Linked DNA regions of Homo sapiens. The protein of the gene in region 1 interacts with the protein of each later gene in a biochemical or structural test. Each region holds a gene or a part of one and is shown on either strand. Other genes may lie near its edges.

The links. Proteins that work in one complex are often made in the same cells at the same time.
Region 2: the proteins of WBP11 (region 1) and PQBP1 form a complex in vitro, tested with the Homo sapiens proteins (2 studies listed by BioGRID and IntAct, with this or other methods).

The regions. Positions count from the first base shown.
Region 1 is NC_000012.12:14,798,702-14,808,653, forward strand, and holds the start of WBP11 (WW domain-binding protein 11), read right to left. Parts: upstream 4,778-9,952; 5' UTR 4,651-4,777; intron 2,728-4,650; 5' UTR 2,683-2,727; coding exon 2,619-2,682; intron 2,083-2,618; coding exon 2,051-2,082; intron 1,028-2,050; coding exon 934-1,027; intron 1-933. Other genes in the region: SMCO3 (single-pass membrane and coiled-coil domain-containing protein 3), read right to left, coding at 7,302-7,979. UniProt on the Homo sapiens protein: Activates pre-mRNA splicing. May inhibit PP1 phosphatase activity.
Region 2 is NC_000023.11:48,900,930-48,903,643, reverse strand, and holds the end of PQBP1 (polyglutamine-binding protein 1), read right to left. Parts: intron 2,455-2,714; coding exon 2,343-2,454; intron 1,715-2,342; coding exon 1,602-1,714; intron 1,412-1,601; coding exon 1,127-1,411; intron 913-1,126; coding exon 849-912; intron 717-848; coding exon 560-716; 3' UTR 501-559; downstream 1-500. UniProt on the Homo sapiens protein: Intrinsically disordered protein that acts as a scaffold, and which is involved in different processes, such as pre-mRNA splicing, transcription regulation, innate immunity and neuron development.

The DNA of each region.
Region 1 (9,952 bases):
TTAATGTATCATTGAGGAGTTTCATTCCATCTCTTTTACTTACTACTCTGTTTTTGGGCAAAACATGGAACTTGTAACGATCACTTTAAAATGCTATTTTACAAAAGTGGCAAAGGGTAGAAGACAAAGTGGCAGAAACTTGACAGGTGAAAAGCACATGGAAGTTAACTAGACTATTTTATTTTCTTGCATGTTTGAAAATTTCTATTAAAAAAACAAAATATTCTACATGTTCTAATATTAAACAGAATGGATATTTGTGGGTTAGGATAAAATTTCCAGTGGCAACATCAATGATTTTCAAACTTAGATGCAAAAAAAGATAACATGCAGCTATTTCATGTGATTCCAGTTATAACAAAGCAGCGATACTTAAAATGCATATGAAGAGTGAATAAAACTATTCTATAAAATGTGAAAAAGGCAGAGAATCCTGGTATAGTATTTTATTATTTGGTTTTTAGGTATTTGATGATTTTTTTCTATATCCTTACTAAATGGATAAGTATCTTTTTGGATCTTCTGATTGGAAAAATTGGAAATTGCCTTATATTCACAGGGGCCTAATACTTAGATTTACATGGTAGTTGCCAACATTAAATAAAAGACGACAAACAAAAAACCCAAGGTTATTTCATAAATCAGATTAAGTCTTCTCCCAAAAAGCAAGCTGGCCAAACTGTGCTTCTGTTATCTCACAATAACAATTAACTGAAAGCCAAATAATCGCTTCCCTCTTATTCTGGTATCTGGGGTCTCCAGTTTGCAACAGCCCTCTAGCACTCCATTTTGTCTCCCTGAAACTAACATTAAATCCAAGCATCAAATGCCATCATGCTGTTCTGTTTTACTTACGCCTATGCTGCTTCACTCGTTACCTGCCTGCCTCTGTACGTGTCAGACTGTTATAGCTGCCTGTTTGTAAATTCTTACCCATTTCATCCAATTTCTCCATGTCTCGGATTATCTGTTTTGGATCCTTCATCTTTAAAACTGCAGCTCGAACCATCATGCGCTGTTTTTTGTTCTTAGAAAAATAAAAGGGCAGATGTCAAGAAGTCAGGCACTCAGGAGTTTTACTTCAACTTGCTTTAAGAATCTAAACAGAATAACTCCTTGGCTTCTGATCACTTGTTTCAACCACCAGAAACAGCTATGTAATTTTTTGCCTTAAAAATGTTTACACTTGTCAAAAAGATAAAGAAATGCTATTTTTAAGATGTGCTTTCTTAGTAAAGTATTTCTTTGAACTCTGAGATCTTTAGCAGTTACTTAAACACACATACACTTTAAATTTCTTTTTTTTAACCCCTTATGTTCTTGAAGACCTTGGGTGATTGTTCCTGCCCCCTGTTGTAAAACCTCTGCTAGTTGAAGTCCAAAGCAAAGGTTGAAGCTAAATTCTAAAATTATATAAAGAATATTTAAAAATTTTGCAGGAGTTAATGCTAAACATGAAAACACAATCGAACATTATTTAAAATCTGTGTTGCTTCAATGTATTATACTATAATACTATAAAGCACAATACTATAAGGCAAATCCTTTCTAATTCTTTTGAAGTACTTTGCCACAAATTCAACAGCTAAGAGGAGAATGCTAATTGGGAAAATGGATATATAAATCTAATATATCTATAAATATTATAAACCTACATATATATATTTAAGCTAATGTAATATATGTAATAGACAGCTAATCAGGAAAATGGATAAAGCTATCTAGCATCATGTTTATTTCCATCCTCATCAGTAGACTTTAAAACAGTTATGTTTTAATGAGTAAAAAAAAGAATTATTTTCAAAAGTATTTTTTAACTCACTGGGAAAAGTAATCAAACAATGGCATTATAACCTGTAGTGAGCTTCTCTGCAAAGTTACTTCAGTTCCTAAATAAAGTTTGGCTTAGTATATCTTACAGTTTTTATAAAAAGCATAAAGTACCTTTTCTAGAAAATATTAGAAATGTTATTCTGAAACCCACTAATCCCAAATCACAAGATGTACCAAACAATACTTAAAGTTTTATAAGATGCCTCTAAAATCATACCTTCTTTAATTCTCTCTTCCGGGCTTCCTTTCCTTTAAAAGGAGAGAGGGAGATATAATAAAATCTTTGAATCTTGAACATTAGCATTTCCTCCAATTTAATACAGGTAATTCTTTATTGTGGAAAGTTACAGTATGCACTGTAAAAGAGCAGCATCTTTGGATTCTCTCCACTACATGCCAAGAGCATCCCTCTAATTATGACAACCAAAAATGTCAAGACATTTTTGTTTAATGTTTCATAAAAAACAACTATGAATCTGAAGGAAAAACATAACATAAAACGCGAAACAAGGGCTCGCAAAACTAATTTGCTCAAAATTTCCAATATAAAAAGAAAGATTTCAGCCAATTCTACTTTGCAAGTCAATCAAATTTGAAAAATAAAATACGGGTACTAATTTCTTTGCATATTTAAAGTCTTAATGTGCCCATACAAACCCTGAATATATAATTTATTCCTCCTATCACTGCTGGTCTTGTAATTAAGCCACAGAGAAAGAAATTCCCTAATATTTGCAATTTTTAACACTCTCCTACTTCATCATTCCACACTAATGGACACTTACGGGCTTGGTCTGTGGGGTTCATAAATTTTCCACTCTTGGTGGATGATGTAGATCTCCGTCCCATGTTGACAATTTGTATGGTTTACTTGTTCATTAAAAAAAGAAAAACCTGTGAAGGTGAAGACAAAGAAATAGCTTATATCTCCTAAATGTATTTCTTCCTTTTTCTAGTCCCTACCAATCTCTGAAAAAAAATTCCTTTAATTAGAAATTCTGTGAGACTGTTCTTTCCTTAGTTTTGACTTTAATGTCCAAGAAAGATGGCATCACCTTTCTTGACCATGAAAATTTAGATCTCTATCATTCTTCAGAAATGTGATGAGTGTGAAGACCACTTTGAATATCCTCAAGTCATCAGTTTAGCTTTTTTCTTATGGATCACAGCACTGACTTTGTCAACTGATAAAAACAACTAGAAAATGCTTTAACGATATGGCACAAACCATGAACATCAGAATTCATTAGTCCTTCTTCTATAACCTCCCTTTATTAACATGTAATTGTAAAAGAAGAATAAGAAGGGAATGGGGGTAATGGATCTAGGCTCAAAACACATACCTCACCTTTGCCTCTCTCCATGGTTTTTCTTGGCATGTATGCTGTACATTCTCAATACTTCTAAGACACTAAAAACTCATTAATTTAAGCATATTTAATTCAGATTCAGTTCTAGTTCAGATATAATGCTTGACTCTCAAGAGTTCAAAACACAACTAAAAATGCAAATATTTGAAATTAGTGCTATACTGAGAGCTCCCCAAAACTTAAATATTAAGACACATATTTTTCTTACTAAGACCTGACTCCCAATATATATTTCTTAAGGTAATTAAAGGGAATACTTATTTTTGTTTGAGGAAAAAATATTTTGTAAGCTAAAACTTTTATTAACACAGTACCCTATTACATGACTTCTTCCTCTTATTCCAAAATAATGGGGCTTAATTTTTTGAAGCGCAGTCTTTCCAGTAATAAAGGCGGACAAATTTGCTTCCTTTTGCAAGTAGACACTTTTTAAAGGTAAGAAAGGGAAGATTTTGTCAGCCCAGTTTATTACAGTTAATGTCTCTTTCACCAAGTGTCCAACTGCCCCGAAAGCCAGATGTTTCAGAAAGCCAGATGTTTCACAGCTGTTCTGGTGGCAATTACTTCAAGACAGCGGTATCAAAGGCTCTGATTTTTAGCTTCCTCATCTAAAAAATGGGGACATCAATTACTTTATAACAAAGCTCTGATGATACAATGAGATTACAAATAAAATATCCTGTGATGTTTGACTCACTACTTAACTAAAATCTTTATAATGGATCCATATTCCTGGCCTAGCTACCATACACCCTGTCAAGTGGTTTCCTTCTAAGAAAAACTGGGGATGGGGGGGTTAGGGGGGTGGGAGAGCAGCAGGGAGTAGGAGGTAGGGAAGGAGGAAAACAAGCAAAATCAGTACATATACAAGCTCTCCCATCTTTGATTGCCTGCGTTTTTTGTGCTTTCCTTTCTCAAGTTTCCTCAGGCTCATGTTCTGAATCTCCTCCCCCACAAATGAAACACAACGGATACGAATTACAGAGAATTTTACGGAAGACACTGGAGCTTAAGTCTGCAGATTAGTTTTTTGTCTACAAGCGGAGGCGACTGGAAAATCAAGCCAAATAAGCGTTGGATAACTCTAAACAGCCAAAGAAGCTTCAATGGGATAGGGTCCAGGTTCACCAAAGGAGGCAACACCAGCAACTGACGAAACCATAGCGACGGCTGACCGACCATGACTCGAGGTACAAGACGTCAAACCTAAGGCTACTAATCAACGTGCGTAAGAAGCGGCCCCAACCGACCCGGGCGATGCCAACCGCGCAACCACTGGTCGCCGCGCCACCCCAGGCCCAGGAATAGCCCAGTCCGCAACAGGGAGACCTCAACCAGGGAGAGGAGGAGCGGGGCAAAGGGGCTGGGTGTCCCCCAAGCCGCTGCGCGGGACGTGGAAGGGACGAAAGAGGTGAGGAAGAGTAGTAAATCAATTCAATACACTCACACTTCTGCTGTGCTCCCAGGACTACGAGAAGCGGGTAGGGGGCGACTCCCGGCCTCTTTCACTTCGTAAAGGCCTTCAACTGGGTCTCTCGGTCAACCCCTCAGCTACCGCCATCTTGAAACCTCGCGCCCCTCCGCACTCCTCACGTCATTTCCCATTCCTCTGTCCCGCCTTCTCTTAGCGCCGCTTGACCCTGGAACCATAGAGAATACCCAAGAATTCCAGGACCAGAGTCTCTTCCGGTTCCATACAATACTCAATTGGTTGGTTGTCGGCTAAGAGCCCGCCTCATTGCGCTCATCTAGTACAATAGGAATTAGAAGAAGATAGCTGCTAACTGAGTGGCTGACGGTCCTGTCTCTCGAGTTGGAGGCATCTTGACTTAGTTGCTGGGAGCCTGGTACGTTGAGCCGTCCGAGAACGGTACATTCTGCAGATAAAGAAGCGTTCTGCGTTTTCTGTCTTTTGGAATTACCTTAGTTTTTGCATTTTTCTGTTTCTTATGACCCAAGCAGGTGCGATCCTTTAGGGGTGTCTCCGTGTGTAAACGAATACCCAGATAACATTTGCCACTGAGTTTAATCCGCTTTGTAAGCATCAGGTTATCCCATGTGAGCGCCTAGTACGTGTGGAAATTTAATAGACAGGCAGAACAGAACGTTTGTAGACCACCTGAACAAATAAATTAGCACCCGTATTAGAGTCGCAGATTGCTTATATGGGCGGTGATTTATTATTTGTTAGTAGTGTTTTGAAGAAGAAATACGGGGATACATATGCAGTCGGTTTTAAGTTATATGAGTGGCAAGGTTGATATATATTGGCTATATTCCCGACTGGTCTTTTCACCAGCCAAAAGTCCTCTATGATGTCACTCTACGTACGGGATTCTTCACTTAACTCTAGCCTTCGCCCTTTCCCTACCTTCTATCCCCTCTTTCCGTGAGTCAGCCCCCACTTATTTCCCTTAAAGGTAAGTTTAAACATTTAAAAAACTATCTTAGAGGATACGCTTGGTTATTTCTAATCTTAACCTGACTATCCCATGTAGGAAGGCTATTCTTACCACCAGTTATAAATATTTCAAAATATTGATGGAGATACATACTAATTTTTAGCAGAATCTTTAAACTGCCCTTGAAGGTATAAGATCGGTCCTATACCTAAACTTACCTTTGTGTTAGGAAATTCTTGATTTGATTTTAGACTGAATTTGAGTGTCAGAAAGCAATGACGAGATATTGTAGGTTAAAGCTGATAAACCAGGTAGTACATAAAAAAGAAAATAATCTTGAACTGCGAAGGTGAGCTAAGTTGTAATGTTTTGCAACTAGTTTTTTTTCTTTCCTAACACATTAGTGATCATAGTTTTGCAACTCGTTTTGAAAAACAATGCAAGAAGAGAAAGAGAAAACAGTGTATGTTGGAAATATTAAAGTCTTTCATGTAGCTAAAATTTTATATGTAGCTACTATTTTTAAGATATGCTGAGCAGTTTTTATTTCAATACATTTCTTGTACTTGGATGGGAGAATCAACTATAACAAACACAGTCTGGCATCAACAGCATATTAATAATTTTGTCAGTATAGACTAAAAGAGTCCTCATGGGAATTATTGGTTGGCAAAGGATTTAGAAAACAAACACATCTGCAGAGATTCAGCGGAACCATTAATAGGCTTCCATAGCCTTTGGCGTTTTCTAAAATCAGGTAATTAGTGAAATGGCCCACCTAATGCGTCATGTAGCAAAGGCAGCTGCCTCCTTTTTGCTAGTGTTGAAAATGAAATTATATTCTTTTTTCTGAAAGCTTATAATAAATTATGACTTTCTTTTAAATGACAAATGCTTTGAGTAGTGACCTTCTATTCTGCATCCTAAATGCAATATGTGTAGCTGTGTTTTGCTTTCTTGTCTTCTAAATGTTTCAGTGTTTGAACATTCACTTGAGCGATATTTAATTATCACAGTTGGTCAGGGTTGATTGCAGTGACTGAAACAGGACCTTGATGTTTTTAGTTTTGATTTTTACCATTTTCAAATCCATCCGGTTTACATTGTGTAATCAGTAGACGTTTACAGATCAGCTTCCTGTCCTAATTGAAGCACATTGTTACAAACCATTTTTCAGTCTCTTCTAGTTTACAGAAAACCAGATTTACTCTGATGGTCAAAAATATGGTAGTATTTCTGTCTCATTCGAAGGCCTAGAGTTTGTGTCTAGGCAGAAGTTACTGAGTATGTCCCCTTATAACTAAATGATGTTTGAAGCTGGTGGTAGAAATGAAAGTCTCTGCATTCAATGTGAAATTTAAGAATTTTACTGAAATTAGAAAAGAGAAAAGTAACCCCTATACTTGCTACTCTACGATAGCATTTACCCCAATGTTGATCTGGTAGAGCAGGGTGTGAAAACATCCAGGGAGAAAATTTTTTTACCTCACAGGGTCTAGCATCAGCTGATCCAGGCATTGTTGACTCAAAACTCATCTAGTCATCTAGTCTTGGCATCTCCAGTTTCCCTCTCCAAATTGTTTATCTTATTTAAGTCCATATTGGAAGCCTATAGAAAATGAACCTAATCAAAGAAGCAAACACTGTTACTGAAAAGGAAGCAGAAAAACACTTCAGTGGCAAATAAAACGGCTGTTCATTTCATTTGGTGTTTCACTGTATTGATGACCTCAGTAATGGCATGATTATATTTTTCTGAGGCTGATTTGAACTCCACCAGATGCTTCTCATAACTTTTGATGGCTGCTTGAAGCTGTGTTTTTTCCACTGCTCCCAGGATGGCACGGACAATCATATCTATGCCAAGGCCAAGAACAGCAACTCCAATACTACCAAGGAGAGAAGCACCAATTTGAGCTAACACAGTGACCAACTTGTTAATTATGCCAGTTGTGACATTTGAGCCCACAAGTTTAACAGCGACTGCACTGGCTGCAGATGTAGCTTCTCCCAGGATGACCGAAATAACCTTTTGCACTATTGCAATTTTGTCTGTTTCCTTTTCCTTAATATCCTGAAGTTTTCTATAGAGGGTTGGCTCTAGCTTATCTTTTAGTGCTTCATCAACCTTCTGCAATTCCTTTTGGATTTTCATAATGGCTTGGATGATGAGGTCACAGTTTTCTTTGATGGTCCCATCTCTTTTCATCTCAATGGAGGCCAGCCTGCACCCCAAGTGCATATTTAGAACCTCAGTCAGCTTATTGGTGACATCGAAGCTGTCAGATAAGCAATCAAGAAGCTGCTGGTGAAGACGATTTACTTCTTCCCGCCTTTTTGGGTTCTCTGGGTAAAGGAAGTCACTTTGGGCCATATTTCCAATATGATCGCTGAAAAATAAAATGGTAAATTTTTACTGAAAGTCTTAAAAAATGTCTGCTAACTGTGTAGAAGGGACTAGGAAATCTTTTTCTTCATGCATAGCAAAGAAGCAAGATGCTGTCTAAGGATAATTCCTCAGAACACTCAACAAGTTTTTTTAAAAGAGGGAGTATCGCTGTGTCACCCAGGCTGGAGTGCAGTGGTGCGATCTCAGCTCACTGCAACCTCTGCCTCCCAGGCTCTAGCAATTCTCCTGCCTCAGCCTCCCGAGTAGCTGGGATTACAGGCATACACTGCCATGCCCAGCTAGATTTTTGTATTTTAGTAGAGACAGGGTTTCATCATGTTGCCCAGGCTGGTCTCCAACTCCTGACCTCAGGTAATCCACCTGCCTTGGCCTCCCAAAGTGCTAGGATTACAGGCGTGAGCCACTGTGCCCGCCCTCAGCAGGTTCTTTAAAACAGTTATTTTTATGAAATTTGGAGTCAGTGTATGGAAAGTGTAGGCAACAGAATACAACCCTTTGATGGATAAATTAAGTTATTAGATTTTGTGGTGGTGAGAAATATTCATCGTTTGTCAAGCATCTGTTTATTAATAAGCGTGATTATTTCTAGGTAATATTTAATAACTTTTATTTGAAACAGACCCCAATTTGAAATGCTTAGCTCTTGATTACTAGTGCTCCTTAGTTTCCCGAACCCCTAGTCACCACATTGACCACACCTACCAGACTGATTTCTCTAGCATTTGGAGTTAAACTCTAGTCAGGGCCAGATAAATATTAACATCTCTAAATTTACAGGGCTGTTTTTTGTATTTCAATACTTGGTTATTTTAACTTAAAATATTCAAGTCACTTTATATATCTCTACAGGCAAGTTATTTGTTTTCTAAACCTAAAGGATATCCAAAGGCAACATGTATATCATGCTAGAATCTTTAACAAATTTTTTCTTGTGATAAGAGTATATATTCAAGACTCTTTGGATTAAAATTTCATGTGGGGAGAAGGTAGGCACTATACAGGGCACAGTGTTAATCAGATAATCATGTGATTATTCTCCATTTGCAAAGCTTATAAATTAAATTATTTAGAATAGTCTAAATAGTATCGCACTTGGGCATTATTTAGATAAACTAGAGTGAACGTCAGAAAAAAAATGCCATTTTACAAAAGTATTAAAGAATAAGGGGCCGGGCATGGTGGCTCAGGCCTGTAATCCCAGCACTTTGGGAGGCCCAGGCAGGTGAATAACTTGAGGCCAGGAGTTCAAGACCAGCCTGGCCAACACAGCGAAACCCCATCTCTACTAAAAATACAAAAATTAGTTGGGTGTGGTGGTGCATGCCTGTAATCCCAGCTACTCTGGAGACTGAGGCAGGAGAATCACTTGAACACGGAGGTGGAGGTTGCAGTGAGCCAAGATGGTGCCACTGCACTCCAGCCTGGGCAACAGAGCGAGACTTTGTCTCAAAAAAAAAAAAAGTACTGAGAGTACATCATAGAATGAATAAAATAAACTTGACAAGAGACTTCAGTGTTTGTCCTTTTGGCCTACAGTACCTAACAGTCATGCTCTTCTGTGTTTATTTGGGTGAAAAATCTAAATTTGAGCCAGTAAGAGCACGATGCTACTCAATATGCATACTTTGAGTAGCCTTCCTATGTGGCTGGTACTTTTTTTTTTTAAATTACACTCTTGAGAGAAAAGAGAGAAAAAATGGAGTTCTTTATCCATATCCATGTGGAATCTGGCACAGCCTCTTTTTGAGTAAATAATATCGTAATTAATTTGGACCGTATGTCTTCTAGCACTACGGTTCTTATTCTGCTTAAGGGGAACCTCAGAAGTATGGAATGTAGGAATGAAGATTTTTTTCTTTCAAGAAAGTAAACCTGAAAATAACCTATCCTCCAAATCGTATGGATATAAGTTGGCAACGGAAAAGAGAAAATTTTTC
Region 2 (2,714 bases), on another chromosome or scaffold:
CAATGCCAAATAAAGATGTTGTATTTATTTAGTCCACGTGTAGCTTTCTGACCAGGTGGGCACCATTACTAACCCCAGGACTACCAGCCTCACCACCGCCGCCCTCACTTGCTCAGGAAACCCGCCTGCCAGCCTAGCCCAGCTTTGTGTTTTTCTTTCCTCCCCATTCCCACCACAGGTTGCTCACCAAGGTGAAGGGTTCCTAGCCGCTGGGATTGAAGACATTGGCCTGGCCTCGTTCTCTCTTCTTGCCCTTGGCCCAGCTGGGACCAAACTCTGATCAGTATTAGGGGTAGAGTGAGGTAGACACTGGACTCCCTGTCCCCACCACCCCTGCCCCACCCAGGGCCAACATGACTAAGCTCTCTCATGACCCACCTCAGCTCAGCCCCCCAGCCCCTGCCAGCTCCACACTATCTCTTAGCTGAGTTTTTGCAAATAAAATGTGTTGTGTATCTTGCCGACTTGGGTTGGGCAGCCTCAAAGGAAGCACTCAGGTATGGTGGGCAGGATCACCAGAAAGCTTTTATTTTAACCCAGGGCCAGGGAGGCCGAAGCTTCAATCCTGCTGCTTGGTTCGGGAGGCCTCTGCATTGGCCCGGAGCACAGCCCCTGGGGATGGATACGGCCGCTGCTGGAAGAGGGGCCCAGCTGCTGTGGTGTCAGCGCCAGTCTTGGCCTCATTCCGCTTGGGGAGTCCTGTTGACCACGTGCCCCTGCCGGTGAAAGAGTCAGGGGATGGGGATGGGTGATGTGGCGGACACAGCCCACCTGGTCCCAATGAGGAATGGAGGAAGGAGGCCGGAGGATGGTGTCCACGTACTGAGTCAAGAGGGGTTGTCACTTACCGGGGGGCGTCTGAGTATGAGCTAGGGTCCATGGGGTCTAACTCTTCATCCTTTCGGCTTACTGCTGTGGAAGTGGCAGGGCAAAGTCTTCAATAGAGGCACCAGGATCCCCTGATCACTGAGCCCCACCCCACAAGAAGAAATGAAGCCCCTGGCTGCCATGTACCACAGCACCCTCCTCTAGCCCCAGGTCCAGGCATCTTTTTGAGGGAAGGCTTCCTCACGCAGTGCACCCTGCACCTTGTTGGTCTCACCGAGCCCCATTCTGCCCAGCTTACCCTTCTTGCTCTTGGGATAGGGAGCCAGCTCCTCCCGGCGATGGTGGCGCCGTTCTTTGCCCTCTTCCCGGTCTGCCTTGTCATACCCGCGGTCCCGATCCCGTTCCCTGTCTCGCTCTCTCTCTCTGTCTACCTTGTCATAGCCACGCTCTCGATCCCTGTCAGACTTGTCGTGGCCCCGGTCTGACTTGTCGTGGCCCCTGTCTAGTTTCTCATGGCTGCGGTCCGACTTGTCATGGCCCCTGTCCGACTTGTCATGGCTCCGGTCCAACTTTTCTTCAGCATCTGGGGACACAAGTCTTGAAGTGACCTCTTGCCACCCCAGGACCCAGCAGCCTCTGCCTTCAACAACCTCCCTTGCCTGAGGCTGGGCCCGCCTGGTCTCACCTGCCCCTCTGATCCACTATCATTCTACTTGGCCTCTCCGTGAGAACTGCTAAGATCACTCAAGGCACGCTTGTACCTGCCAACTCACCTGCATTACTGCTTCTGAGCTTCTTGGCCGATTTGGTAACCACGGAGTTGGGGTCATGTGGGGAGAGCCAGGATACAAGGTCTGTGTCTGCATTCCAGTAGTAAGGGAGCCCGCTGTGGGGCCGCAGGAAAGAAGTGTCAGCACAGATGTCCTTGCCTTGGATCCTCAACTCTTGTCTCCCCAGTCTCTGCCTATACCTGCCCCATGTCAGGACCCCACAGGCAGGATCCCCAGAATCTCTTCTCCTGAAGAGAAAACACTGTCAGCTGGGCGTGGTGGCTCATGCCTGTAATCCCAGCACTTTGGGAGGCCGAGGCAGGCGGATCACCTGAGGTCAGGAGTTCGGGACCAGCCTGACCAATATGATGAAACCCCATCTCTACAAAAAATACAAAAATTAGCTGGGTGTGGTGGTGTGCACCTGTAATCCCAGCTACCTGGGAGGCTGAGACAGGAGAATCGCTTGAACCCACGAGGCGGAGGTTGCCATAAGCCGAGATCACACCATTGCACTCCAGCCCGGGCTACAAGAGTGAAACTCCGTTTCAAAAAAGAGAGAAAAGACAGTCTTCCAACCCCAGAGGAGCCAGGCCCCAGCAGGCAGCAACTTGAGTCCTGCAGATACCTAATGCCAACACCCTCCACCCGAGGCTCCCTCCCTTGTGTCCCCCTAAACCTCACAACCAAGGTCAGCACAGGAAGGGTGAAGCCAGAAGTTAGCTCCCCCTCACCCAGGCTCACCAGGAAGGGTCGAACACCTTGTACCAGCTTGGTGGTAGGCCCTCCAACCTGGTGGCCTCGTAGTCCACAGGATCATCGTCATAGTCCTCGGCAATGATCTCTTCCTCTGGTTCTGGTAGAACAAGGTGGGGATGAGGAGAGCAGATAAGGACCAGGGGACCTCATCCTACATGTAGAGCCTAGAGACACGCACTCACATTCACACAAGCCACACATAAAAGACACGTGTGTGTGTGTGCCGGGAAGAATATGAAGTATCTTTCACATTCCAAATCCAACTCTCTATATTAGGAGGTTTACAAAAAAAGGTTACCTAAATCTGTGTCTGGGTTCAGATGATGAGTTCTACTGTTAGCCAAAGCTATCTGGTTT